Linked DNA regions of Homo sapiens. The protein of the gene in region 5 purifies or fractionates together with the protein of the main gene of each other region. This does not show direct contact. Each region holds a gene or a part of one and is shown on either strand. Other genes may lie near its edges. The genes, in order: ITIH3, SLC25A4, SLC25A13, SLC38A10, THTPA, TTF2 and STK11IP.

Evidence for each region.
Region 1: the proteins of THTPA (region 5) and ITIH3 purify together in Homo sapiens (affinity purification with mass spectrometry; 2 studies listed by BioGRID and IntAct, with this or other methods). This does not show direct contact.
Region 2: the proteins of THTPA (region 5) and SLC25A4 purify together in Homo sapiens (affinity purification with mass spectrometry; one large-scale study listed by BioGRID and IntAct). This does not show direct contact.
Region 3: the proteins of THTPA (region 5) and SLC25A13 purify together in Homo sapiens (co-immunoprecipitation; one large-scale study listed by IntAct). This does not show direct contact.
Region 4: the proteins of THTPA (region 5) and SLC38A10 purify together in Homo sapiens (affinity purification with mass spectrometry; one large-scale study listed by BioGRID and IntAct). This does not show direct contact.
Region 6: the proteins of THTPA (region 5) and TTF2 purify together in Homo sapiens (affinity purification with mass spectrometry; one large-scale study listed by BioGRID and IntAct). This does not show direct contact.
Region 7: the proteins of THTPA (region 5) and STK11IP purify together in Homo sapiens (affinity purification with mass spectrometry; one large-scale study listed by BioGRID and IntAct). This does not show direct contact.

What each region holds. Positions count from the first base shown.
Region 1 is NC_000003.12:52,807,047-52,809,297, forward strand, and holds the end of ITIH3 (inter-alpha-trypsin inhibitor heavy chain H3 isoform 4 preproprotein), read left to right. Parts: coding exon 1-59; intron 60-539; exon of another isoform or gene 540-676; coding exon of another isoform or gene 677-700; coding exon 701-870; exon of another isoform or gene 871-903; intron 904-1,063; coding exon 1,064-1,175; intron 1,176-1,471; exon of another isoform or gene 1,472-1,505; coding exon 1,506-1,635; 3' UTR 1,636-1,751; downstream 1,752-2,251. UniProt on the Homo sapiens protein: May act as a carrier of hyaluronan in serum or as a binding protein between hyaluronan and other matrix protein, including those on cell surfaces in tissues to regulate the localization, synthesis and degradation of hyaluronan which are essential to cells undergoing biological processes.
Region 2 is NC_000004.12:185,141,905-185,146,065, reverse strand, and holds the start of SLC25A4 (ADP/ATP translocase 1), read right to left. Parts: upstream 2,801-4,161; 5' UTR 2,694-2,800; coding exon 2,583-2,693; intron 1,303-2,582; coding exon 816-1,302; intron 308-815; coding exon 167-307; intron 1-166. UniProt on the Homo sapiens protein: ADP:ATP antiporter that mediates import of ADP into the mitochondrial matrix for ATP synthesis, and export of ATP out to fuel the cell.
Region 3 is NC_000007.14:96,315,599-96,319,098, reverse strand, and holds part of SLC25A13 (electrogenic aspartate/glutamate antiporter SLC25A13, mitochondrial), read left to right. Parts: intron 1-3,500. UniProt on the Homo sapiens protein: Mitochondrial electrogenic aspartate/glutamate antiporter that favors efflux of aspartate and entry of glutamate and proton within the mitochondria as part of the malate-aspartate shuttle.
Region 4 is NC_000017.11:81,285,308-81,288,807, forward strand, and holds part of SLC38A10 (solute carrier family 38 member 10), read right to left. Parts: intron 2,043-3,500; exon of another isoform or gene 2,038-2,042; intron 1-2,037. UniProt on the Homo sapiens protein: Facilitates bidirectional transport of amino acids. May act as a glutamate sensor that regulates glutamate-glutamine cycle and mTOR signaling in the brain. The transport mechanism remains to be elucidated.
Region 5 is NC_000014.9:23,554,804-23,559,070, reverse strand, and holds the start of THTPA (thiamine-triphosphatase), read right to left. Parts: upstream 2,801-4,267; 5' UTR 2,314-2,800; coding exon 1,767-2,313; intron 377-1,766; coding exon 231-376; 3' UTR 1-230. UniProt on the Homo sapiens protein: Hydrolase highly specific for thiamine triphosphate (ThTP).
Region 6 is NC_000001.11:117,066,826-117,070,325, reverse strand, and holds part of TTF2 (transcription termination factor 2), read right to left. Parts: intron 1-3,500. UniProt on the Homo sapiens protein: DsDNA-dependent ATPase which acts as a transcription termination factor by coupling ATP hydrolysis with removal of RNA polymerase II from the DNA template. May contribute to mitotic transcription repression. May also be involved in pre-mRNA splicing.
Region 7 is NC_000002.12:219,596,493-219,600,656, forward strand, and holds the start of STK11IP (serine/threonine-protein kinase 11-interacting protein), read left to right. Parts: upstream 1-1,364; 5' UTR 1,365-1,431; intron 1,432-1,601; 5' UTR 1,602-1,627; coding exon 1,628-1,688; intron 1,689-4,164. UniProt on the Homo sapiens protein: May regulate STK11/LKB1 function by controlling its subcellular localization.

The DNA.
Region 1 (2,251 bases), on a different chromosome or scaffold from region 5:
AACAGGGCCGTGCCGAGCACTTTCAGCTGGCTGGACACAGTCACAGTCACGCAGGATGGGTAAGCTCCCCTACAAGGTCTCCAAGGTGGACTACAGGGTGAGAGTCTAAGGAGGCTCTTGAGGGATTTAGAAAAATCCCAGGACAGGAGATCCATGGGGGTCACAGGAAAGATCAGAGACCCCAGAATCCAGTCTCCTGTCACAGGGGAGGGTGACCATAGTGGCCCCCAACCAAACCCTGGGGCCCTATCAGAGCCAGAATTGGTAGCTGCACAGTTCAGCTGGTTGGGTGAAGGCATTAGGTGATAATGGCCCCCATTTGCCTCTTCTGTGGCTGCTCTTGTCTTCTTAGCTCTCCTGTCTTCAGATCCCCCAGAGCCTCCCACTGAGGCTCAGAGAAGGTGTGGAGCCTGCCCAATGTCACTCAGGAAGTCAGTGGCTTAGCTGAGGCTGGACCACAGGCCTCCAGATTCATAGGCCAGCCCTCTCTTTCCCACTTATAGACACTCAAGGATCCACTCACGGGAGGGGAGACAGTGTGCATGAGGCATCCTCTTTCCAACGCCCCTGAGATAGTTTCTGGAGTCTGTGGGCCCTCGGGTGCCATGTACAGGGGAGGCCCCACCAAAACGCCCTTGAGTCAGATGCCCAGTGTCACGGCCACTGGGCCCCACAGCCACTTTCTGGCTTCCTCTCGTAGGCTGTCCATGATGATCAACAGGAAGAACATGGTGGTCTCCTTTGGAGATGGGGTTACCTTCGTGGTCGTCCTACACCAGGTGTGGAAGAAACATCCTGTCCACCGTGACTTTCTAGGCTTCTACGTGGTGGACAGTCACCGGATGTCAGCACAGACGCATGGGCTGCTGGGTACGAAGTGTTCAGACTGCAGGCTGTTCAGGCCTGAGAGCAGCATGGGAAAGACATACACAAGGCCTTCCTAGGCACCCTGTACCCAGCTCACAACACCCCATTCAGCCTTTGCATCAACCCTGAAAGGCCAGTGGCCACGTTACCCGTGGCAATGGCCAGGGGCTGACAGCATGAATATTTTTCTTCCCAGGGCAATTCTTCCAACCCTTTGACTTTAAAGTGTCTGACATCCGGCCAGGCTCTGACCCCACAAAGCCAGATGCCACATTGGTGGTGAAGAACCATCAGCTGATTGTCACCAGGTGAGGAGACTTCTCCCACACCCTCACCTGCTCAGCAACGAGAGGAGGAAAGAGCACCTGCAGCCCAGGCACATTAGTCTGGTGGGCTTTTGTCTTCTGTGGGGTACCCTTGTTTCCCTTTGAGGTCTTGGCCCCTCCCAGGCTCTTGCTAATCAAGAAAAAGCCCAAACTTGGCTTCCTCGAAAGAGTAATCATGTAACTTCATTCTTGACCAAAGAATTCTGGGCTGTTAGAATTGCCAACTTCCCACCCTTTTTCAATCTCAGGTCCGCTAGCCTAGCAGCCATCTTACCCACCCCGTGTATTGCAGCATCTCTCTTCTTTCCCCAGGGGCTCCCAGAAAGACTACAGAAAGGATGCCAGCATCGGCACGAAGGTTGTCTGCTGGTTCGTCCACAACAACGGAGAAGGGCTGATTGATGGTGTCCACACTGACTACATTGTCCCCAACCTGTTTTGAGTAGACACACCAGCTCCTGTTGGGATGGATGGCCCGGATTTTATGGCATCTGGAACATGGGCACAGAGAGGGGCCTGTGGGAGGGGCTGGGAAAATAAAGTCCAAGGTCGAGACCAGACAGCTGCCAGCCTCTACATGCCTTCATGAGCCTCTGCTCCAGGGAACAGGCAACTGGGACCCACAGCAGCTCAAAAGAGGGGATGGCTAGCAGGAAGGCAACTTCTTGGGCCTCTCCACTGACACAGCTGAGAGACAGAGTTGGTTGGACTAGAACTTTAGGGATTCAAATGTATGACAGCTTGGGGGAAAAAATAAAGAACTGACTCTGAAGGAAAGGGGCTCTGAGAAGTCAGGAAGGGTTGAATGTATTTCAGTATCCAGGAAAGTCATAAGATAAGTAAATGGTCCCGGCTCAGGAGCTCCAATCAGGACCTTTAGAAGTAGATAATACTCCAGTGCAGATACAGCCCACATCTAAATGGGGATGTCAGCCACCCTTCCATCTATCCATCCATCTATCCACCATCCATTCACCCATCCCTCCACCCATCCATCCATTCACTCACCCACCCACCCATTCACCATTCAACCATCTGTTCACCCACGTATCCACTCA
Region 2 (4,161 bases), on a different chromosome or scaffold from region 5:
AGGATAGTTGAGAACGTTAGGGGGAATTAATACCATCTTTCTTCCCTAAGTCCTTATCAAATAATTTTGAAAATTAATTTCCAGTAAGGAAGACTGAAAGGAGCCCTGTAAAATGTTCTCCTCGGGCAAAACCAAACAAGTTTAGATGAGTAGAGCACAAGCTTACCCCCTTTCCGGCCGGACTGCATCATCATTCTACGACGAACAGTGTCAAAGGGGTAGGACACCAGCCCTGCGACTGCCGTCACACTCTGGGCAATCATCCAGCTCACAAAAATGTGCACGTTCTTGGGGTCAGGCAGCATCCCTGTGGACAGAGCCCAGAAGCCGAACGGCTATGAAGTGCCTGTTCTCAGCAGAAAGCAGGTGGAGGGAGAGAGGCCACTGCACCTCCAGCTCCATGCTCTGACCTTGCGGGGAACCTGCCCCTGTGCAGGTGCTTCACATATGACCAGGCAGACAGCAAAGGTGGCTGCTGCCCTCTCCGGACCCCGGAGGGGCAGTGCTCAGCTTGTATACAGGGCATTGGAAGTGGCTTCAAGTTAAACTCAGTAACTGCTATGGCTGTGTCTAGAGGGAGACAGGCTCCCCCCTCCTCCTCTCTGAATAACTAAAGGCCAGAGTTTATTTCAGTAGAGGACACAAGGAACGCTTCAGCTATTAACTTATGCACATCACCTCCTCATTCAGAAGCCTCAATTATCCCAGAGACTAGAAAAAACAAGATCAATATATATCAGGTCCTTTGTGAGTTATAGATCCCATAGGATCCTCTTTCCACACCACCCTCCTTCTCCCCGATGCCCCTCTCTCACCCTTGGCAGTATCATAGACTCCGAAGTAGGCAGCTCTATAGATAATGATGCCTTGGACAGAGACGTTGAAACCCTGGTAGAGCCCCCTCAGGCCATCAGACTTGAAGATCTTGATGATACAGTCGCCCAGACCATGGAACTCACGCTGGGCGGCGCCCTTGCCCACATCAGCAGCCAACCTGGTCCTAGCAAAGTCCAGCGGGTAGACAAAGCAAAGGGAGGTGGCCCCAGCGGCCCCACCGGACGCCAGGTTACCAGCAAAGTAGCGCCAGAACTGCTTATGCCGATCCACACCCCCTAAGAAGAGCTGCTTGTACTTGTCCTTGAAGGCGAAGTTGAGAGCTTGGGTGGGGAAGTAACGGATCACGTTGGCCAGGTTACCCCTCCAGAAGGAGAGGAAGCCCTGCTCCTTAGGGATTCTCACCACACAATCAATGATCCCTTTGTACTGCTTCTCAGCACTGATCTGTTTGCTGGCATGCTGGACCTGGTGGAGGGGAGGGTGGGTGACAGAGGACAGGCAGGGTAGAGAGAAGGGAAGAGGACAGGAGAAAAAAAAAGGTTTGCACTTCCTAGATTTTTTTTTTGAAGAAAAAAAGGATGAGGAAATCAAATGGATACTGAGGACGTGTAAATGGATACTGTTATCCATGTTAGTTACTGGATAACAAGCCAAAATAATCCAATGTTGCTTCAATTATTAGGGTATTTGAGGGAAAAGGTATTGCCCCAAATAAACTGAAAAGGTGATTGAATTATATAAAGCTATAGCCATTTATTTATTTCACTTTCCCTAGGTTTGAGAACTGTATGAGGGGCTTACTGGGGGACAGAAATGAGTAACACTCCCTGCTTCAAAGGGCTTTGGATTTAATAGACATGATGGCCAAAAAATGACAATTTCTCAGTGTCACTCTGATCACCCTGGAGATGAGGATCTCTACTAGATGCTCTAATAGAGGAAGGAGAATAAATCCACTAAACATTAGGCCTCCAAAGTTTTCAAGCAGATAATCCAAGTAATCAATTATTAAGGGTTTGCTGCCGTTGTGAGCAATTTGTGGGGGTTTTGTTGTTAGTAATTCTGACTCCCAAATTGGGCTCTTCCTCATTGAGGGGCCCTGACCTTTTGGGCAGGTGGAGGAAAACACGAGAGGATGATAAACCATTCAGCGACCAGGTAGGGGAGGAAAAGATTTGGAGACAGGATGATCTGAGTTTATTCCGAAAATTGTTTCTTAATATTTCAAAACCTCAGCTTCATCTGTAAAATGGAGAAGAATAACTCTCTCACAGAGGTTACATAAAGATGAAGGCGTCAGCCTACATACAGCATTGTGCATGAGATACGATAAGGGAATTCTTGGGTGATGATTATTTTGATGTTTTTATTGTAAAGGTGCGTGCGCATAAGACGGTGCCAAAAATACTGGCAATCACTAGGTGCCTCCGGGCCTGAGTGCACGCCCGTGCTGTCACGGGCGCAGGATCTGGCACACGTAAACCGGCTCCGGGTGGGTTTCCATATATAGACACCCGAACGCCGGGCGCCACCCGACACCAGGAATCTGCGACTGACGCTGGACCTGTCTCTACGCAGAGGGCACCTTCTTCCCCCGCGGGCGGGCGGGCGGGCGGGCGGGCGCCCGGGCCTGTGGCCTGGCGCAGATTTTCCGCGGCGCCCCGCGCCCTGCAGCTCGCGCCGCATCGCGCGCCCCGCCCGGCCCGCCGCGCCCGCGCCCGCCTCTTGCACCGCGCGGTCCTCACCTGCAGCAGCAGTTTGACCCTCTCGATGGGGGCGACCGCGGTCTTGGAGACGGCAGCGGCGACGCCCCCGGCCAGGAAGTCCTTTAGGAAGCTCCAAGCGTGATCACCCATGGTGACAGCTCGACGCTCTCAGCCCGCAGGCAGCCCGTTCGTGCTCTCGCCCACGCCCGGCCTGGCACCGCCGCGCAGTCCCCGACCCTGCGCGACGCTAGGGGGCCGCCGCCTGGCCCGCAGCTCCCCCTTATATCCCCGCCGGGCTCTCGCGAGAGGAGGCGGGTCGCGGCCGGCGCTCGCGCCGCGCATTGGCTGGGCAGGTGCGGGGCGCCCCCTCCTCCCAGCTGCAGAGGGCATCGGGGGCGAAGGCGCTTCCGGGAGCGAGGCTGGGCCGGGGGCTGTCCCTGCAACTTGGGACGTTTAAAGGGCACATTCATGTTATCTGTCCCGCCGAGCCCAGGGAACACCGTGTCACCGCGGCATGTGGGCCGCGTATTTATAGCACAGGCAGCCTTAGGCCGGGGCGAAGCCGGGGCAGACACCGGGCCGCTGCCGCCGGTGGAGAGTTCTTGACCCTCCGGCCTGCACGGGCCGCGCTCAGGCCCAGGGATTTCGAGCTGTTTCCTCCTTCTTGCATCTAAAGGCGCCCCCCACCAGAGCTCACTGCCTGGATATGGGCCTCTTTAGAGCCGTGCGCTCCCGAGAATAAATGGCAGTCCTCTCAAATAGATACTAAGGTCACCTGATGCTGTGATTGCCTCATAGAATCTGACAACCTGCTGCCTCTCATTTCTTTTCATTCAATCGTTCGTTCAGTCATTCATTCTGCTATTACATATTGATGTGTCTGGCACTCAGTGCCCACAGGAAAGACCTGGTGCAGGGGGCCACTAGGTGAATTCATACTTGTTTCTGCAAAACTCTGTGACTCTAAAACACAGGACACTTCTTTTGTAAGCCCCTAAAGGGTTCAATGTACCACTCTGCTCTCAGCGGAATTTCAGCACATATTAGGGCAGAATGTTCTGTCTGTCAGCCGGTGCCTTCTTGAGGGTCAGTGCTGTCAGCCTTCCGGAGATCCAGTCCTTGGCTGTATTTGCCTCTTTTTAATGACAGCTGGGGTTGAGGAAATGCTATTTAATCCCAGGAAATTAATTGCAATTAATTTCTTAAAATATATAAATCTGAGCTTTAATTTTCCTTAGCTTGTTTTTTAGGCAGTTCATGTAACCATACAGGTTTTCAAATACAACTGTTCCTTCCCCTAGAATGACTGCAATTCGTTTTTAACTTTAAACTCTTCACTCAATTATCTTCCCATGTTTGCTAATTTTCATTTGTACCTTTAACAAAGTTTATTCATTGTTTTATAAACTTTTTTTTTTTAATATTTGCTGACATCATGTTAGAGGTTTACGGAGCTGCAGCTGCGTGTCACCCTGGGCGTGGAGACTTTGGTATAGCAGAAGTCACTAAGGTTCCAGGGCCACAGAGGGCATGCGTTTATCTAAGAGTGGGGCAGGCTAGAGTTCCGAAATCCAGGTAAGCAGAATGAAAGCTAGAAACTAGTGGAAAGCTGCCAGAG
Region 3 (3,500 bases), on a different chromosome or scaffold from region 5:
CTAACTTATTCCAAGAATGTCCCTTATTGAACTGCCTTTGGGCATCACCTTTATCGGTTGATTCTGTTGGCAGCCTGAGTTAAAGGCTGTGCTCCTTGCTTTTTCCCTGGAGCATAGCTATTCCATGTTGCCAGCTGAACACAGAGCCATAGGGGTAGGGTTGGCATTCCCTCTTAAAAGTTGAGGAGCCTGGATAGGAGAGGACTTCACCTCAATGGACTGTTAGGAAATTGGGCTGAGACTCTGGGGACTCAGCAACTGTGAGAATTCCAACACTCACTACACTCACTGTGACAAATTGTTTGAATATTTAAGCAGATTTGGTATTTTCTGGATAGATGTAGCCACAACTAGCAATTAGTTTTCTGATCTGTTTCTTTCTTTGGTCTTTATACTTATTTAAATACAGCTAATTATTCATGACCTTCCTTTAAATAGTTTTAATGGGGAGATGGAGAATCTAGTCTTTGGCTGCTTTTTATTTTGAATTTTGCTATGAAGATTACTAGTTAATGGTTCAAGAAGTGTTTGTTTTCTTTCGTGAATGAACATTAATCTAAAACTCTTAGTATTCTGAGATTATCTCAAAAAGTGTCCATTCTCTTGCTGCCTACGTTTGTAGGAATAATCCTTGTGGGTTCCCTTGTTAGATCTGCCTGTACTGTTTGCGTTGTTTGAATATTTCTTTTAAACATTTCCCAAAACTGCCATAAAAAAACAGTTTTAAAAGGTGGTAATTGAGAGGTCACCCTTTTCTTCGTCTCTGCCCTTTTCTTGGTTAAAGGAGAGCTTTCTTCTTCGTCATTGGTTAAATTTATGCGTTACGAATGATGTAATTAACCTATATGAACCTACTAAAAGTTAGAATATGCTCCCTTGAGTTCAGACCTGTGAGATGTTCTGGGGTAAAACTGAACACAGACCAATATTAGCCTAGAACCAAAAGAAGGAAATTTGGGGGCACATTAAAGCATTAATAATAAAGACAATTTGGTCTGTAGGACTAGTACACTTTGTATTGACTTTTCATTCTTGGATGAGTTGTTGCTGTGATCATTGATTCATTTATGTGTATTGTGTTCTTTCCAGTGTTGCAAATGGGACAAAATTGAGAATACTAAAATGAATTGTTAGCTGGGCATGGTGGCACGCATCTGTGGTCCCGGCTACTTGGGAGGCTAAGGCAGGAGGATCACTTGAGCCCAGAAGGCAGAGGTTGCAGTGAGCTGAGATAGCACCACTGTACTCCAGCTTGGGTTACAGAACGAGATCCTGTCTCAAAAAAAAATAAAATAAAGTAAAATAAAATAATAAAATAAAATAAAATAGAATAAAATAAATAAAATGAATTGGACTCCATTTTGATGTTCAAGAAAACCAAAACCATTCCAGGGGGCTAAGTTCTCTGATGGAAATGCTCCCACTACAAGGTTTGTGGGAGCAGTAGGAGAAGAGCCCATTTCTGAGGAGATGAGGGAAGTCTTCTGAAAATTGCTAGTATTTCAGAAGGAATGGATGGGGAAGAGTAAAGATCCAATCCAGTGGTTGGAAACAAATGAAGGGCTGGGAGGTGAGAGCACAGGCTACATTTAGTTAACAGCAGGTAATAAAAACTAAAAGCAGCTGACACTTACTGAGCGCTTACTAGATACCAAATTCAGTTCCAAATGTGTTTCATTGTTGATTCATTTAAAATTCAGTTCCAACTGTGTTTCGTTGTTGATTCATTTAATGCCTCAGCCTTTTGAGTTAGTTACTATCATCCTTTTTTTATAGATGAAGGCTCTGAGATACCAAGAGGTGATGTTAGTGGCCTAAGATCTGATAAGTATGGCTGGGTACGGTGGCTCACACCTATAATCCCAGCACCTTGGGAGGCCGAGGCAGGTGAATCACCTCAGGTCAGGAATTTGAGACCAGCCTGGCCAGTCTGGCCCATCTCTACTAAAAATAGGAAACAATTAGCCGGGCATAGTGGTGCATTCTTGTAATCTCAGCTGCTCGGGAGGCTGAGGTAGGGGAATTTGCTTCAACCTGGGAGGCGGAGGTTGCAGTGAGCTGACGTCGTGCCATTGCACTCCAGCCTGGGTGACAGAGCAAGACTCTGTCTCAAAAAAATAAAATAAAATAAAAAAGATCGGATAATTAGGAAATTATCGAGCTGGGGTTCAAATCCTGCCAGTCTGGCTCCAGCAGCTGTGGCCTCACTCTGTCCACCATGTGTGCCTGGTAGTTTAGTGTGGTGGAGAATAAAGTATATGGGAGAGGTGTGGGAGATGACTTAGGAGAGGGGTAGGTGTCTCAGTGTAAACCAGACTTTTATTTGAGAACTGCCTTACCTAGTGCTTTTTGCATGCCAGGTACTTTTCCAAGAGCCTTACAAATAGTAACTCAATTAATTTTCTTAATTCTAAGAAGTAGGTGCTTTCTGTTTTTGACTTCAACTTACAGGTGAGAAAACTGAGTTAGGGGAGGTTAAGTAATTTCTCACGCTTGTGCAACAGGTAAGTGCTACAGTCTTGATTTGAACCTTGCCAATGTGTCTTCAGAGTCTCTGCTCTTAACCTCTGCGCTGCTCTCCCAGGTCTTACCAAGAGTTCCATTTGCGAAGGTGTATGTGTGAGAGTTCACATGCCATCGGGTATGGATGTGTATATTTCCTGATCATCCCAGTCCAGTAGTTCTTATCTTAGAACACCTTTGTCACTCTGTATATGCTTCATTTCAGTGTTTATTAAGTGTATTTCTCATCTCTCCAACCAGATCGCAAATCCCTGCAGGACAGGAATTGTCATATACCTTTTATTTAATTGCTTTATTGAGATATAATTCAAGTACTATACAATTTACCCATTTAAAGCATATGATTTATTGGTTTTCAATATATGCACAGAGTTGTGTAACTGTCACCACTGTCATATACCTTTAATCCAGTTTCCATTAGGATTTGGACTATAATATATATATATATATTTGGGACAGGGTCTCACTCTCTCACCCAGGTGGAAGTGCAGTGGTGTGATTATTGCTCACTCTAGCCTAGACCTCGTGGATACAAGAGATCCTCCCACCGCAGCCTCCTGAATAGCTAGGACCTCAGGCACACACCACCACACCCAGCTAATTAAAATTTTTTTTTTTTTTGTAGAGACGGGGGTCTTGCTATGTCGCCCAGGCTTTGGGCTGTATATTTAACCTCCATGTCTTCCACATTGTTCACCCATCATAAAACCCTCTTCAGAGGTTTGTCATTGAGGATAAAATATATTGAGGTTATTAAAGATATTCTTCAAATGGCAGGGTTTTTTCTCCCCTATGTAAAAACTCTACTAAGTATTTGGTGATATCATAATAAAACAAATCAGTTTTTGTGCTAGGAATGGAGGAAAGAAGGTTTGAGTTGTTTTTATGCTACCATGATGATGATTATTAAAACAAATATCTATGGCTCCACTGTTTGGGTTTTAGGGGTTCTTATCTTGTTGGAGCTGGATGGCCTT
Region 4 (3,500 bases), on a different chromosome or scaffold from region 5:
CCGAGCGCCACAGCCTGCACCAGAGGGACTCTGACGGAGGGCTTTCATTTTCACCCTTTGGTTGGGATTTATAGAAACAAATGGAGACTCCTTTCGAGCATGGTGCTTCAGGAAGGGAGGGGACGAGAGCCCTGGGCTTGTGGTGTCCACGTGGACAGCTAATGAGGAGCCTTGCCGATGAGGAGCATGCGTTCCCGACGGGGCGGCCGAATGCGGAAGGAGCCGCCATTCTCTCCGCCCTGACCGCGGGATTCTCTGCAGCAGATGAGAAACGGCGCTGACTCAGCAGGGTCCCTCCCAGGCCCCGAGCGGTCATCTGGTGACCCCCGCGCTTCCCCCACGGCCCAGCCGGAGAAGGGCAAAGGGAAGTCCCGGCTCCAAGGCGCACCCAGAGATGCGGTGCATGTGGCAGGATGGCCCAGCCCCGTCGGCAGCCCCAGCTTCCTGCCCCTGGTTTCCTTCCTCCCACGGGCTACAGGCCTCTGATGAGCTTTGGAAAGCAGGAAACACACAGGCTAGTAACTATGAATGGGTCCAAAAAACACTCCTTATTACTTTAAACTACTTAGGAAGAAGCACAGCGTTGCCAAACGCCAGAGCCCGGGAGCAGCAAAGACCCCACCTCCAGGGCTCACCCTGGCCTTTCCTGGACCTGCCTATGGGCTCGCTGAAGAAGCCTGGCACCCCTTGAGTTCATCCCACAACACGGAAACCCGAGCCAGGCCCCAGAAGCTGACCTGAGGCTGTGGAGAGTTTCAAACACTAAGAACTCCAGGAGCCCCCTCAGCAGCCCACAGCCCAGGGCCCTGCTGTCACCAAGGAACGCCCTCCACACCCCTCAGTGACGGCACAGCCCGGAAGCAACAAAACACGGCGCTCCAAACATGAAGTTGCTCCTGGCCATAATGTGCCTTTTCATTCTCCAAAAGGAAGCTGAGTCTCTACAGCATATTCCAAACACGAGCGCACCTTGCCCAAGAAGGTTCCGGAATATGCCTGCCACTGGCAAGGGAAAATGGGAGGCTGTCTAGGAAATCAGGGCAGCACTCTCTTCTGGTTCCCAGGACAACGTCCTGAGAGCCCACCACGCTGAGACACGGCCCCACGCGCCTTCTTTTCCCCACCTGGGCCAAACCCTCACCCGCCATTCCCAGTGTCAATCCCTCGGCAACTTCTCCTCCCCAGGTTCAAACACCAGCCCCAGTTGGACTGACCCCACTCCTTCACATCCTGCGTGGACTGGCACAGAGAAAGGGAGGAAGAGGCTGAAGCGCCCAGCAAGGTCCCGGGGACCCAGCCCTCCCCCGAGTGTGGACTCCCAGTGCGGGCCCAGCCCCTGCCAGGCTGGAGGTATCTGTGAGCGGCGAGCTCTGAGGGCGCGGCCTCCATGCAGGGTGTACCCTACCCCAGGTGCAGTCAGATCTCCCCCAGAGCCAGCACAGGAGCCACAGAAGCCTGGACCACCCAACGAAAGGACGCGGGCAGCACTCCTGACACCGCTGCTCACAACCGAGAACTCAGAGGCCGCGTGGGGGCCAAACAGTCCCTGCTGCTGGGGGAGGCGGTTTCTAGCCCAGACCACGCATGCCAGGGTTCAGGCACAACTCTCAACAGGGCAGGGTCTGGGGCTCAGAACAGCTTCATGAGAAGCCGCGACAGCTGAAGGAGGCTGAATGACTGATGTATCTGTGTGTCTTCTGAAGAGGGGATTTAGAAAAGTCCATGTCCAAGCAAGACACGCAGGGCAAGGAAGCAGCAAGTGAGAAGGTGACGAAAACGACAAAAACCACCTGCAACCAGCAACAGCAAATAGGACAGGGAAATATACAAACACCAACAAAAAACGACACCTCTCCAGGCTGGCACATGGCACTGGAGGACAGCGGGGAGGGTAAAGCGATCAGCGGCCACCTCCCCAGGCTAACCAACCCGAGGAACCATTACACCGCAAACCTATGCCTGGGTGGGGGCAGATGCCATTCGGAGGAAACCACCCAGCCGTCCCAGGGAAAGTCAGTCTGTGTGCGAGGACGGGACCCAGCCCGGCGCCTCCTGAAGACTGCAGTGTGGAGCTGCTGTCCACTCTGCACAAGGGCCTCGCCTCAGCTCCAGGAGAGTCTCATCTTACCCTCCCCAGGGACGCCTCTCCCAGCGCGGGTCTCCCCACTTCTAAGACGAGCCAGGGCACACTGCAGCTGACGCGGAGCAGCTGGGCCCAGGGGCCTCTGTCCGGAGCTCACGCAGTGGAACCACCGTGTTTGGTGTCAAAGGCATAACCTGAGACACACTTGGTGTTTTGGAATCTTTTTTGTTTCTGGCAGGCAGAAGTGGACTGCGGTCACCCCATGCAGGTAAAGGTTGGAAGCTCAGGCAGGAGTTCCAGGCAGCACAGAAGAGCACCCACCCGGCAATTTTCTTCCAGTCCTTCACATGTAGCCAAACTGGTTTGACTTTTCAGGGACTTTGAATGAATAGACAGCTGGCTATCAGAAATGGGGGCCTCCCCAGCCCTGGGTCACCGGTCTTCTTCCAGGACACAGCCAAGGACTGGAGTTGGGGCCTCTGCTACAGAAACCCTATACAGAGACCTCAGTGAGGAGAAAAGGGTCGCCCTGCAGGCCACAGCTCTGCAGACCCAGGAAGGGGCCCGCCCAGGCACGGTGCCTCCTGGCATCCGGTAGGCATCTTTCAGCCCAAGTTGCATTAGGCCATCTCACTGTGGATCAAACTTAACAGTGAACTTCACTTCCTCAAATAACAACAAGAAAAGACTCTGACAGCACCATTCTCATCAGGAAGGGAGGAGAAGGAATACATCCCCTCCGGTTCTGAGGGCCGAAACGAACGCAGGACTCTCTGTGGCAACATGAAGGGGACTGGGAGGAAGTGGAGGCTGGGAGGCCAGGACCCACGTGTGGACCGTGCAGGTGTTTTTATTTTGTTTGGCCCCCTGGACCCCTAAACACCATTTCCTCTCCCGCCACCTCCTCACTCTGCCGCGGGAGCTGTGAGCCCGGGGGGCAGGATGGCCTTCTGCAGGGAGGACCTAACATCCCAGCCGCACACTGGCTGGAAGGTCCAGAGCCTTCATCACAAGGCCAGAGTTTTCACCAAAACCCACAGGGCCAACTCCTGAGAACACGGATGCTGGAATTTCAACACCCAGGCTGGATGCCCCCAGAATGGAACGTGGAGCCGAGAGGTGCCGAGCCTGTGGCGGGCAGGGAGACAGCGCGGGCCACACAGCCTGTGGGCAGACGGGAAGGTGAGGGATGGCGCCCTCGAAGACAAACAACGTAGAAAATATTCCACACTGAAATGAAGCAGAAAGCGCAGCCTTCTCTCCTGGCTGAAACAGCATTAAAGCAAGAAAGAACTAAGGGAAACAAAACTGCAACCAACAGCATCAGGGGAAGGACACAGCCACTGGGAGAGGAGCCACTGAACTCCAGCAACAGCCCAGGCCTGAGGAGCTTCCTCCATGGAATTCCGAGTTGGGG
Region 5 (4,267 bases):
TTAGCGGCCAGGGGAGAGGGGCGGCCCACAGATTGCATCTGACGGATGAGCGAGAGGAAGCAGCCAGGGAGGGCTCAAGGAAGAGTAGCTTAGAGGAGGGGGAAGAAACAGGCAGCGCTGGAGAGAGAGGAGTCACTGTCAGAAGGGACACTGAGGGGAGAGGCACAGTGGGCCCAGGAGTGGACTCCGTTAGACCCAGAGTTCCCTTCCCCTTCTAGGAAGTGACACCCCTAGCCCAGGCAGTGGTCAGGATCTTCAGTCTCCTGTGGCCTCTCTCTGGAGCTGTTCACTTCTAGCAGGCGCTGATAGTCTTGAGGCCGGAAACGCTGTAGATACACAATCAGCTTGGCTGGTGCTGTCTCCTGTGCAGGCACACCTACAGGTAAAAGGACAATGAGGAGAGAAATGGACAGAGCCACAAGCACTTGGACTCTGCTCCCTGCCCACCTAGCCAGGACTCCGTGGATGTTTCCAAAGCCACACTGGGGTTCTGAATGTCACCCACCCAGCTTCTGTAACACACTAGTCCACTCCCTGCCTGCCTGTGGAAGTGGGACCTAAAAGAGCAACTTCAGGCAAGAGTGGGACTAGAAGCCACACCTCAGCCTCTCTCCTCCAGCAAGGAGAAATGGCGAAGAGGCACCCAGGCACCAAGATAAACGAAGGATGCCTCAGCGTCAGCTCATTTCAGTTATTACCCTGTTCCGCAATCAAGATTAAAGCCCTAGACCAGGCCAAAGCTCATTAGCTTAGTAATGAAGCACATGCAGAGATGTACACATAGAAACCAAGAGCTATAGAAAGAAGAGGAGGGAAGCTATAGCCATGGGGTGGGATTCACATAGAATTCTCGCCTCTACATGGTGAGGTGAGAATGGAACTGCCTGTTGCCAGTGTCTTGTTGTTAGTGCCTGGCAGCATGCTGGGCACATAGCAAGGAACTCAGTGTATGTTTGCTGAGGGGGCTCAAACAGCACTGCAGGGCTGTAAGGCCCCATGGGATGCACAATTCCTAGTGTGGATGAACTGTCTACAAGGGAATTATGCTTAGGAACAAATCTGCCAAATCATGCCCCACTGTCTCACATAACTATAATGTTATTGTCCTTTACAAAAAGCCAAAAGGACAAATTAAAAGGATCTAGGTAATTGTAAAACAAAAGGACAAGACTGGTTGGACTCTCAGTGTAGTGGGCAGTGCATCAGTCTCATGATCTGAAGATCCTGGGTCTGAGCCTCCCAGAGGGCAGCTTTTGTAAAAAGGCTTACTTTTTACTCCTTGTGGAGGAGTGGTGACTGAAGAAGAAGAAAAAAAAGAGATTGGGGGAAGGAAGAGTCAAAGCAGGGAACTGAGAAATGAAACTGAAGGAGATCTGGCTATAGGTATGAGAACTAAATGAGGCAGGTTGGCTGGAATTAGACACGTGGAAGGACTAGATCCAAATTAGCTACTGTTAAAGAGAAAACGAGATTTCACAGAACTGTAAGCAAACTTAGAAAATTGCTAAAACAATTCCCATTACAAAAATAATCCAGGCCAGGCACAGAGGCTCACACCTGTAATCCCAGCACTTTGGAAGGCCGAGGCAGGCAAATTGCTTGAGTCCAGGAGTTCCAGACCAGCCTGGGCAACACGGCAAAACCTTGTCTCTATTAAAAAAAAAATTTTTAATCCGGAGGCCCTCCCCCACTGCATGGTCCAGCAGGTGCCTCCAAAAGAGAAAAGTGGGGAGCAGGAAAAGCACAAAAGGGCCTGTCTCCCTCACCAAGCATGCTGCTGAGCCTGTGGATCTTCTCTAGGGCAGTTGGTACTTCAGCCTCCTCATGCACCAGGGCCTCTACCTCACCCACAGCGTAGCCAAAGTCGGCTGTATCCAAGTCCACCCTGAGCTGTGGCTCCTCTTCATCAGCTCCCAAGAGCACCAGCTTCCAGGCACTCCGCTTAGTCACAAAACTAGCTACTTCCTGCAGCCCCAGTGGGCCCAGCACAGCAGCCACATCTCCAGCCCCCAGGCCGTCAGCCCGCAGCACCTTACAGAGTTGGGCCACAATTGTAGGTTCCGCTGTGAGTTCCTTATACTCCGTGTGGGGTCCTAAGACACCTGCTGCTCCAGGACATTTGAGCTCCCATCCACTATCCTCTCGTCGTCGCAGCCAGTGGTCAGCCTGCATGAGGCTCAGCTCAGGGGTGTCATAGTAGGTGTCTCGGAAGGTGACCCGGTACTCCAGGGTGCCCCCCAACTCCTGCAGCCGCTCCTCTGTGCCAGGCCCTGGAAGGAACTTTCGCTCCACCTCAATCAAGCCCTGGGCCATGCTACCTGCAATTGGCTGAACAAACGTTTGCTGAGTTCCCAAGGATGCAAAGCCTGGTGCTCAGCTCCTGGGGCGTCAACTCAGTACAGAACCCCTCCCTGGAAAAACTTATGAGGGGCACACTGTGTCGCAATAGTCTCTAGGGCTACTGCCCTTTTCTCTCTACCTCGGTGACATTAAGGCCCCGTCGGTGATATTTTAAGGCTCTGACAGTGACAGGTCTCCAGTAAAATCCCTTCCACTGCTGCTGATGTCCTCAATCCAAAGAGACCCCTAGAAAGCAGGCCGGGTAGCGGGTGTCCTTTCAACGCCCCCCTCTCTACACCTTGCCACCCCAGGAGGCTACTGGCTCACGACCCGGGAGGACCTGCCCTTTCCTGCTACACTACCGGCCAGCGGAACTTCAGGTCTCACCTCAAAGCCCGAGAGTCTCCTCGCGGGACCCACAGAGGGGGAAGGGAGCCCACGCCATACACTCGCGAGGAATGCCGGGAGCAGTTCCGGATCCCGGACCTCGGCCCGACCCTCCGCGCGCCCGGCAGGTCCCGGCACCAGCGGCCATATTACGCCCGTTGTGGCGGTGCCGAGAGCAGGCCAGGGCTCGAGACACGCGCTATGTAATGGGAGGCCGCGACCCCCGCGGTGGCCAGGGGAGCGAGGCCGCCCCTTGCATTCTGCTCCTCATTGTTGGCCCCGCACGGCTCCCGGGGGCTGGTACAGGTCTCATGCCTGAGGCTGAGCCAGGCACCCCGAGGCGCGGATGCATGATGGGAGATGTAGTTCCAAAGGGAGACTTTGCCATCTCGCCCCGCCCGTCGCTATGGCGACAGGAAAGCTGCACTTGGTGCCTGCGGTACTCTACCTAAAGCTGAACTGGGGCTACAAGGCGGCGGGGAGAGTCGGGTGCAAGGAGCTCAAGCCCCAGTCCCGTCTCCAACACCCCCCGCCGCACCCCCAACGCAGGCAGATGGGCCTGGAATACAAGCCATTCACACCGTCCAACAGATATCTGCTATAGCAGCCAGCTAAGCGCAGGCCAGTGGCAATGGTGGCGAGGGGGGTTGGGGTGGGGGGAGGGAAGGGGGCGGGGGCAGCGCGTAATAAAGTCCAGTTTAGCTACTCTGGAGTTTTAGAGGGGATCTAATACCTCCTGGCATGAACGTTGAGGGTAAGAGTGGGTGAGAAACTTTCTGTCAGAGAATAAAGTGGTATTTTGGCCAGGAACTAAAGATATGATGGTATTTCAACAGTTGGAGACCTAGATGGAGACAGGAATAGCCTAAGCAAAGGCCCAGAAACTGGAGAGCACCTGGGTGGTACGTAAGGAGAAGACGAGGCTAGAAATGCAGTTGAGGGAAAAGCCTTGAGTGCTAGACTGAGGAGTTTGTCAGAGTTTCCAGCGGTCCCTAAGCAGTTTTTGTCAGGTGTAGAACTACTTATGTTCATTTAGAATACAGAAAGGCCGGTGCGGTTGCTCACACCTGCAATCCCAGCACTTTGGGAAGCCGAGGCAGGTGAATCACCTGAGGTCAGGAGTTCGAGACCAGCCTGGCCAACATGGAGAAACCCCCCCGGCCCGCCGTCTCTACTAAAAATGCAAAAATGAGCCGGGCATGGTGGCGCGTGCTTGTGTTCCCAGCTACTCCAGAGGCTGAGGCATGAGAATTGCTTGAACCTGGGAGGCAGAGGTTGCAGTGAGCTGAGATGGCGCCACTGCACTCCAGCCTGGGCGACAGAACGAGACTCCATCTGTCCCCAAAAAAATAAAATTCAGGAAAACATGGGGGTTGGCCCTTTGAATGCTTTGGGAGACAAAATATTAATAGAGATGATTCCTTCTTACTCCCTCTGAGGACTATGGTTATCTGGAGACTCTAACTATATGTCTGACCTTCCATGTGAGGAAGCTCCCTGAGGAACCGTGGCTCTTAACTCCTGGACTCCTTCCTATGAT
Region 6 (3,500 bases), on a different chromosome or scaffold from region 5:
TAGGTTTGTGTAAGTTCACACAGTGACGTTCACACAAAAATGAAATCTCCTAATGACGCATTTCTCAGAATATGCCCCCATTGTTAAATGACTCATGACTGTAGTGTCTACTTTAAAACTCATGCCATGTAGACTTTCAGGAGAAGGGCAAGATTTGCAGAACTAAGGAAAGAAACACACTGAACATCTGCTATGTGCTAGGCACAGTGCTAAAAATGCTTTCCCTTACATTTTTAATTAAAATCAATCTGGATGAGCTTTTCTGATTTTAGGATAATAAGTTTGTTTGTTACGTTTTATTATATTGTAAATCAACAAAGAATGCAGTGGAAATATATTTTCGCAGAGAAAGCAAATATCAATTCCACTATAAGAAAAGCATTAATTTCTGCAGTATGTTTATTAATTGTTTTCCAGGACAGAGGTTATAGGCAATAACGATGAAGGGACCAGCTAGAAGAAGCCAGACCTCTTCAATCCTGACTTCTTCACCAAAACACAAATCCTCCCATTTTCCTAAAGGTAATGTCCAACTCAACATCACACTGCCAAGTGCATTCACTTTAGCAAGGCTACAGTTCTCTCAGGCTCCAGAACTATTCTCCCTTGGTTCAAATCCCAGCCCTACCACCTAATTAGTTCTGAAACATCAGACACCTTAATTGACTGCCCCCTGTGGCAGTTTCCTGTTCTGTAAAATGGCAAAATGATATAGTCCATACCTCATACGGTCATGATGAAGACAAAATACAATCAGAGCAAAGCCTGATACATACCAAGGTCTTAAAAGACAACAGCAATGCCAAGCTCACACTGGCTGATCACTCTGCTTATTCCTACATCCACACTTCTGCTGAAGCTGTTCTGCCTCAACACTTCCTTGTCCTTTCCTCCATCAAAATTGTCAAGGTCATTCAAGGACAACTTCAAGTCTCAACTCCTCTACTTTCTCTGTAACCTTCCTAGCCCTGAACTGTATGTCTTAGAGTCACAGAACCATCTCGCATCTGAACGTCTTCAATTTAGCGCTCTAATGTGCAGAGGAGACTGCACCCCAATCTCAGTACATCTAACTCTTATTCCAGCTGTGTCAAAGGCTCCTTAGGGATTATGAGTTCACATCTTTACATGGTCCAGCTCTGGAAAAACATAAAGCCGAATGTCTACCTCATTCTTTTACACGAACTTTCAAGATGGAAAAAAATGTAAAAGTAAAAAACAAAATTGTAAATGTTCTAGGAAAAAAAACAGATATGAATATTCTTGTAGTCCTAAAGTGAAGAAGGCTTTTCTAAGCCTGGGATAAAACTCTGAAGCTGAGAAATAAAGAATTTAGTAATTTTTAAAAGTTTACACTACCATATGATGAAAATACCATAAGCAAAATTGTAAGACAAAAAGCAAACTGGGAAAACGTAACTACCACACATATCACAAAGGGTTACTATACTTTATACAAAGGGATTGCTCGCACTGCACAGTGCAGTGCATGGTACTGTACACCGCCTCACAAGTATGGCTTTATTCAGTGGTCCTTCACAGCTGGTGGGGCCTGAGGTTCTGGCTGGGTCTGGCGCATGCCTGGTTGCCTCTCTATCACCATCCTGCTCACTATACTAGGGCTAGATAATCTGCAGGTCAATTTCACCCAATAGCCAACAACACGAGGAGTTTTCTAGACATGTGAAGTTTCAAGGGTTATTAAAAGTAAAATATTTTGAACATCTACCACAACCAATTAATTTTTTTTTGGAGGTGAATATTTTTCTTTTTTTTTTTTTTATTACACTTTAAGTTCTAGGGTACATGTGCACAATGTGCAGGTTTGTTACACATGTATGCATGTGCCATGTTGGTGTGTTGCGCCCATTAACTCGTCATTTACATTAAGTATATCTCCTAATGCTATCCCTCCCCTCTCCCCCAACCCCACAACAGGCCCCAGTATGTGATGTTCCACGCCCTATGTCCAAGTGTTCTCATGGTTAAGCTCCCACCTATGAGTAAGAACATGCGGTGTTTGGTTTTCTGTCCTTGTGATAGTTTGCTCAGAAGGATACCACAACCAATTATTTAAAGAACTAAAACTTGTTATACCCACGTCTAAGCAAAGAAATATTTCCATTTATTTTGACCCTGTATCCTTGAGTGAAAGTTCTGTGAGAAACAGAGAGAAAGGAAAATATGAACTCAGGAGCTCAGTGACAATGCCCAAAATTTGTATACCAGGGTGTACCACATCGTTCATGTCAAGGCAAGATTTCTTCCCCCTGGTTCTACTGAGATTATCAGTTTTCTTTACTGCCTGTACACAGAGGGCCATGGCCGAATGGCTAGTCAAATGCTGGTCAGTGGTGCCATCTGGTGTTTCAGTTAGAGATCTGCACACAAATGCAGCTACACTGCAAGAGATGAAAAATGGGCATCTTCGCCTCAGTTTACACCTCCCTTCTATTACTCTGTTGCACCTGTCTCCTGACTACATTCAGCCAAACATAATAGTATTAATTAGAGGATGTAAAATATTTAAGTTATTAAAAAGAAAACCCAGAGTATGTGAGGGAAAGGCTGTACTCTCATAGGTCACTCTCCAGGGGTTCTGGCTGAACACCCTTAATGTTCACTAAGGAAGCCATCATCCATATATAGACTTATCTATTTCTGTTTAAATTCCCAGTCTATGCTACCTATCAGAGTACCTGGTTTTCTGTTGTTATTGTTTTTTAATGTGTTGTGTGTTAAGAACTGCCTTTTACTTTTATTTGTCCTAAGACAACTTTTTTTTTTTTTTTTTTTTTTTTGAGACTGAGTCTTGCTCTGTCATCCAGGTTGGAGTGTAATGATGTGATCTTGGCTCACTGCAACCTCCGCTTCCCCGGCTCAAAGTGATTCTCCTGCCTACTGAGTAGCTGGGATTACAGGCACACGCCACCATGCCCGGCTATTTTTTGTATTTTTAGTAGAGAGAGTTTCACCATGATGGCCAGGCTGGTCTTGAACTCCTGGCCTCAAGTGATCCGCCGGCCTTGGCCTCCCAAAATGCTGAGATTACAGGTGTGAACCACCATGCCTGGCCCTAAGACAAGCTTTTTAAAGCTCCAGTAAGTACTTCCTAGTAATAGTGCTCTGAATTTAGGCTAAGAGAAATACATGTAACATACTTTTTTGTTCTATTTTAAAATAATAAACCCTTCTCAGTCTTATCCATCTAGTACAAAGAACGTTAACAGCAAGTTCTCAAAATTCTGACCTCAGTCAGGCCTTTCTTCAGAGCTGCACACTCATTTTTCTAGCTGGTTTCACATGAAAATAAGACACAATTTGGCCAGGTGAGGTGGCTCATGCCTGTAATCCCAGTACTCTGGGAGGCTGAGGCAGGCAGACCACTTGAGGCTAGGAGTTTGAGACCAGCCTGGCCAACATGGCAAAAGCCCATGTCTACTAAAAATACAAAAATTAGCTGGGCGTCGTGACACACACCTGTAATCCCAGCTACTCGG
Region 7 (4,164 bases), on a different chromosome or scaffold from region 5:
TGCTGGCCTCGGCCTCCCAAAGTGCTGGGATTACAGGCGTGAGCCACCGCGCCAGGCCACGGCCAGCTCTTACATAGAAAGGTGGGGGGAAGTTTAGGTTTTATGGCTGGCTTTGGGGGAGAGGGCTTCTAGTTTCTGTGACTCATCTTGGGGAAGAGGAATTCTGGTTTCTATGGCTTGCCTTGGGGAAGAAAGAAGGCTGGGAGACAGGAGGGCAGGAAAAGGTCGGAGAGACTGTGCCTGAGGCCTTCCAGTCTCTTTTAGTTCAAAATAGTCAGCATACCAAAGCGCCGTATTTTGGGGTATTGTTTTTCTGAGCTCAACACTGCTGCTTCGGATGTATCTCCACTTACTTTATTTAACCTAAAAGGCTTTCAGCTCAGAGCACAAGTAGTATGCCATGAATGCGAAATTGTGTGGTTCAAATATTCAAAATATTTGAAATATTTGCCATTTCAAATATTTTGTCTTGAGAAAATAAAATCTTTCAAATCTGGCAACTTGGGATAAAGATGACTATGATCCTATCCCTCCTTTCAACTGGCTTAGGATTCATTTTGATTTTCCTCTGTAGAAATGGGGCGCTTCATGAAAGAAACTCTCTCTGAAAACCAGGAATTCTGTTAAAAGACCTTTTTGCTAATCTAGTTCAGTAGTTGACGTTAGCATTTGACGGGGAGCCTGGTGAAAGCTACCATGAGAATTCGGAAGCAAGAAACTGGCAGTCCTGGCGCTACTGGTTACTAATTGAACGACCTTCGCAAGTAACCTAGCCTCTGTGAACCTGTTCTCATTTTCAAACGCGGTTGAATAACTACTTTTCAACTAGGATGTTATGAAAGGTAATAGGGTAAAGACAAAGGACTAGGTTCGCGTGGAGCCCAGTACTGCTGAAGGAAAGATACACGAGTTTGGAGGGAGTCTAAGGAAAAGGAGGCAAAGGACCCCGGAGGTTATATCCTCGGTGGCCTCAGCTTTTACACGATCTAAGTCCATCCTACGGCGGATACGCTCTCCTTTCACTGGAAAATGACTGTTTGCGTTGAAAAAATTTTTATCTAACAAAGCTCCATTTCTCTAAACTTTGCTTCCCCGCCCAGTTTGCAAACGAGTCAGGGTTTCCTCACCGGCGCGGTAGGCTCGCCGAAAGCCAAGCGGGAGCCCCAGGCTGCGCAGGGCGGGGGAATAATGGGTGCCCAGCTCCGGGCCAGGAAGCCCAGGGAACCACTGCAGCCACCACCGCGGTCAGGAGACAGCCCCCGCACCGCCCCTTTTCGATTCGTTTGCATGATCTACGGCGCGGTTTCCGGCGGCAGAGACATGTTTTCCGGTCGTCCCTTGGCTCGATTTTCTTCCGGGGCGGGACTTCCTTTCCATCATTGATAGGCGCCGGGCAGCTGAGCTGGTAGGAGGACCAGACGGGGAGGTTCGGTATGTCTGACCAGGACTTATGTTCCTCGAAAGGGCGGCCAGGAGGATGCTCTTCCTCTCTTTTCTTTCTCGCCTTTTTCTCCGCATGACGCCTCGGTTTGCGCGGACGCCCTGGGCTTTTGGCACTACCGCCCACCTGAGGCTCTTCCGCTTCCTCTTTCCCCCCCCAGGCTCCGCCCCCCAGCGTCCCGTGGCCATGACGACCGCTCAGAGGGACTCCCTGTTGTGGAAGCTCGCGGGGTTGCTGCGGGAGTCCGGTGAGTGGACTTCCGGTTGGGCTGGGCCTCGGACCTCGGACGAGGTGGGGGTGGTGCTTTCTGGAGACACGCCCTGAGAGTCATGGAGTTACGACTGGTAGGGTCACCAGGTGTCAGAGTTCAATTTCTTTACTTTTCCCAGGTTTGTTCGCCCTTACAGTGTCCTTTGCCTGTGATAGCCTAAACTCTAGCCGTCCTTTGAGGCCAAAGGGCGGTATCCCTCCCTCCGTGCCTTCTCTGACACTGTCAGAAGGAAGTGATCATTACCTGACTAAAAGCCCCTCAGGACCAGGGACTGATCTCGGTCATAATCATTATTGTGTAGCAAGGTACTAAATACAGTAGATAGAAGCACGAGATTTGGAGTCGGACCCACTTGGGTTGGAATATCAACCCTCTTTCAAACTTGCCATACTGTTTCCTGAGGCTCAGTTTTCCTCACAGATTGGCATAGTGATTGTACTTAACATTTGTGGGGATTCGTTTTAATTCATGTATTTAGTACAATGCCTGCAAGTATAGTAACTGCTTACAGTTGGGAGCTATTGTTATTGTAATGATTTCCCTGATGCTTGGCACTGTGCCTGGGCATAATGGAGCCACAGTAGTTGTTGAATACTTGGTTGGCATTAGTTGTGGTAGAAAAAGCCTTGGCTTTGAGATCAGATAGGAGAAGTAACTTCCTACCAATTATATGATCTCCATCAAGATTTTTCACTTTTTTGAACCTCAATTTTCATATCTGTAAGATGGGGTTAATAGTGCTTCTCTTTGAGAGATTCTGAGAAGGTTTGAATGAGATACCAAAGTCATCTGGTACATACTACAGTTAATGTTAGCTGTCCTCCATCACTCCATGCTCCTATTGACGATATCTGTGGAAGCTCTCTTTATAGCAGTTTTCTTTTCTTTCTTTTCTTTTTTTTGAGACAGAGTCTTGCTGTGTCACCCAGGCTGGAGTGCAGTGGCGCAATCTCAGCTCACTGCAACCTCCACCTCCTGGGACGAAGTGATTCTCCTGCCTCAGCCTCCTGAGTAGCTGGGACTACAGGTGTGCACCACCATGACCGGCTAATTTTTGTATTTTTAGTAGAGACGGGGTTTCACCATGTTGGCCAGGTTGGTCTTGAACTCCTGACCTCAAGTGATTAACCTGCCTTGGCCTCCCAAAGTGCTAGGATTAAAGTCGTGAGCCACAGCACCTGGCCAGTAGCAGTTTCATTTCCTGGCTTGTATTGATAACTTTGCAAATGTCTTATATCCTTCTCTGGGAGGAGACAACTAGGAGGCCCTTTGAACGTGGGAAGAGTCCTTGAACCATGTCTGTATCTATCCTCAGTGTCTAGTACATACAGAATCCTTCATGTCAGGTTGTAGGACTTGTTAATTTATTCAGTGATGAATGGTGGGTGTGTGAATGTGTGACTACAAGGAGGTAGCAGGAGAAGAGCTTTGTGGCAGCAGAATAGTTTTGTATCTTGATTGCGTGGCTGCAGGAATTTATATAAACAGCATATAGCTATATATACATATTGTACCAACATCAGTGTCCTGAATTTTTTTTTTTTTTTGAGATGGAGTCTCGCTCTGTCACCCAGGCTGGAGTGCAGTGGTATGATCTCGGCTCACTGCAACCCCTGCCTCCCTCCCAGGTTGAAGTGATTCTTCTGCCTCAGCCTCCCGAGTAGCTGGGACTACAGGCATGCACCACCATGCCCTACTAATTTTTGTATTTTTAGTAGAGACGGGGTTTCACCATATTGGCCAGGCTGGTCTTTAACTCCGGACCTCGTGATCCACCCGCCTTGGCCTCCCAAAGTGCTGGGATTACAGGCGTGAGCCACCACGCCTGCCCTTTGTGTTTTTTTTTTTGTTTTTGTTTTTTTTTTTTTTTTTTTTTGAGATGGAGTCTACCTCTGTCACCCAGGCTGGAGTGCAATGGCTCAATTTCGGCTCACTGCAACCTCTGCCTCCTGGCTTCCAGCTGTTCTCTGGCCTCAGCCCCTCGAGTAGCTGGGATTACAGGCGCATGTCGCAATGCCCAGCTGAGAATATTTGTATTTTTAGTAGAGACGAGGTTAGAGTCGTAGAATAATTTTTTGTGTTTTTAGTGGAGACGGGGTTTCACCATGTTGGCCAGGTTGGTCCTGAACTCCTGACCTCAAGTGCCTTGCTCCCAAAGTGCTGGGATTACAGGCCTGAGCCACGGCAACCAGCTCAGTGTCCTGACTTTGATATTGTACTATAGCTATATAAAATGTAACCATTAGGGAAAACTGGGTAAAGGATACAGGGGACCTTTCTGTATTATTTCTGCAGCATTCTTTGACTCCATACTTATTATATTTTTTAAGCCAAAAAAGCATTCCTTCATGCCTAGCTTGTAGCTGCACTTTTTTAGGTGCAGTGATGAATACCAGAGTGATCAAAAGATGCCCTCAAGGATGAAAGTCTCATTAGAGAGAGCAGTTTTAAC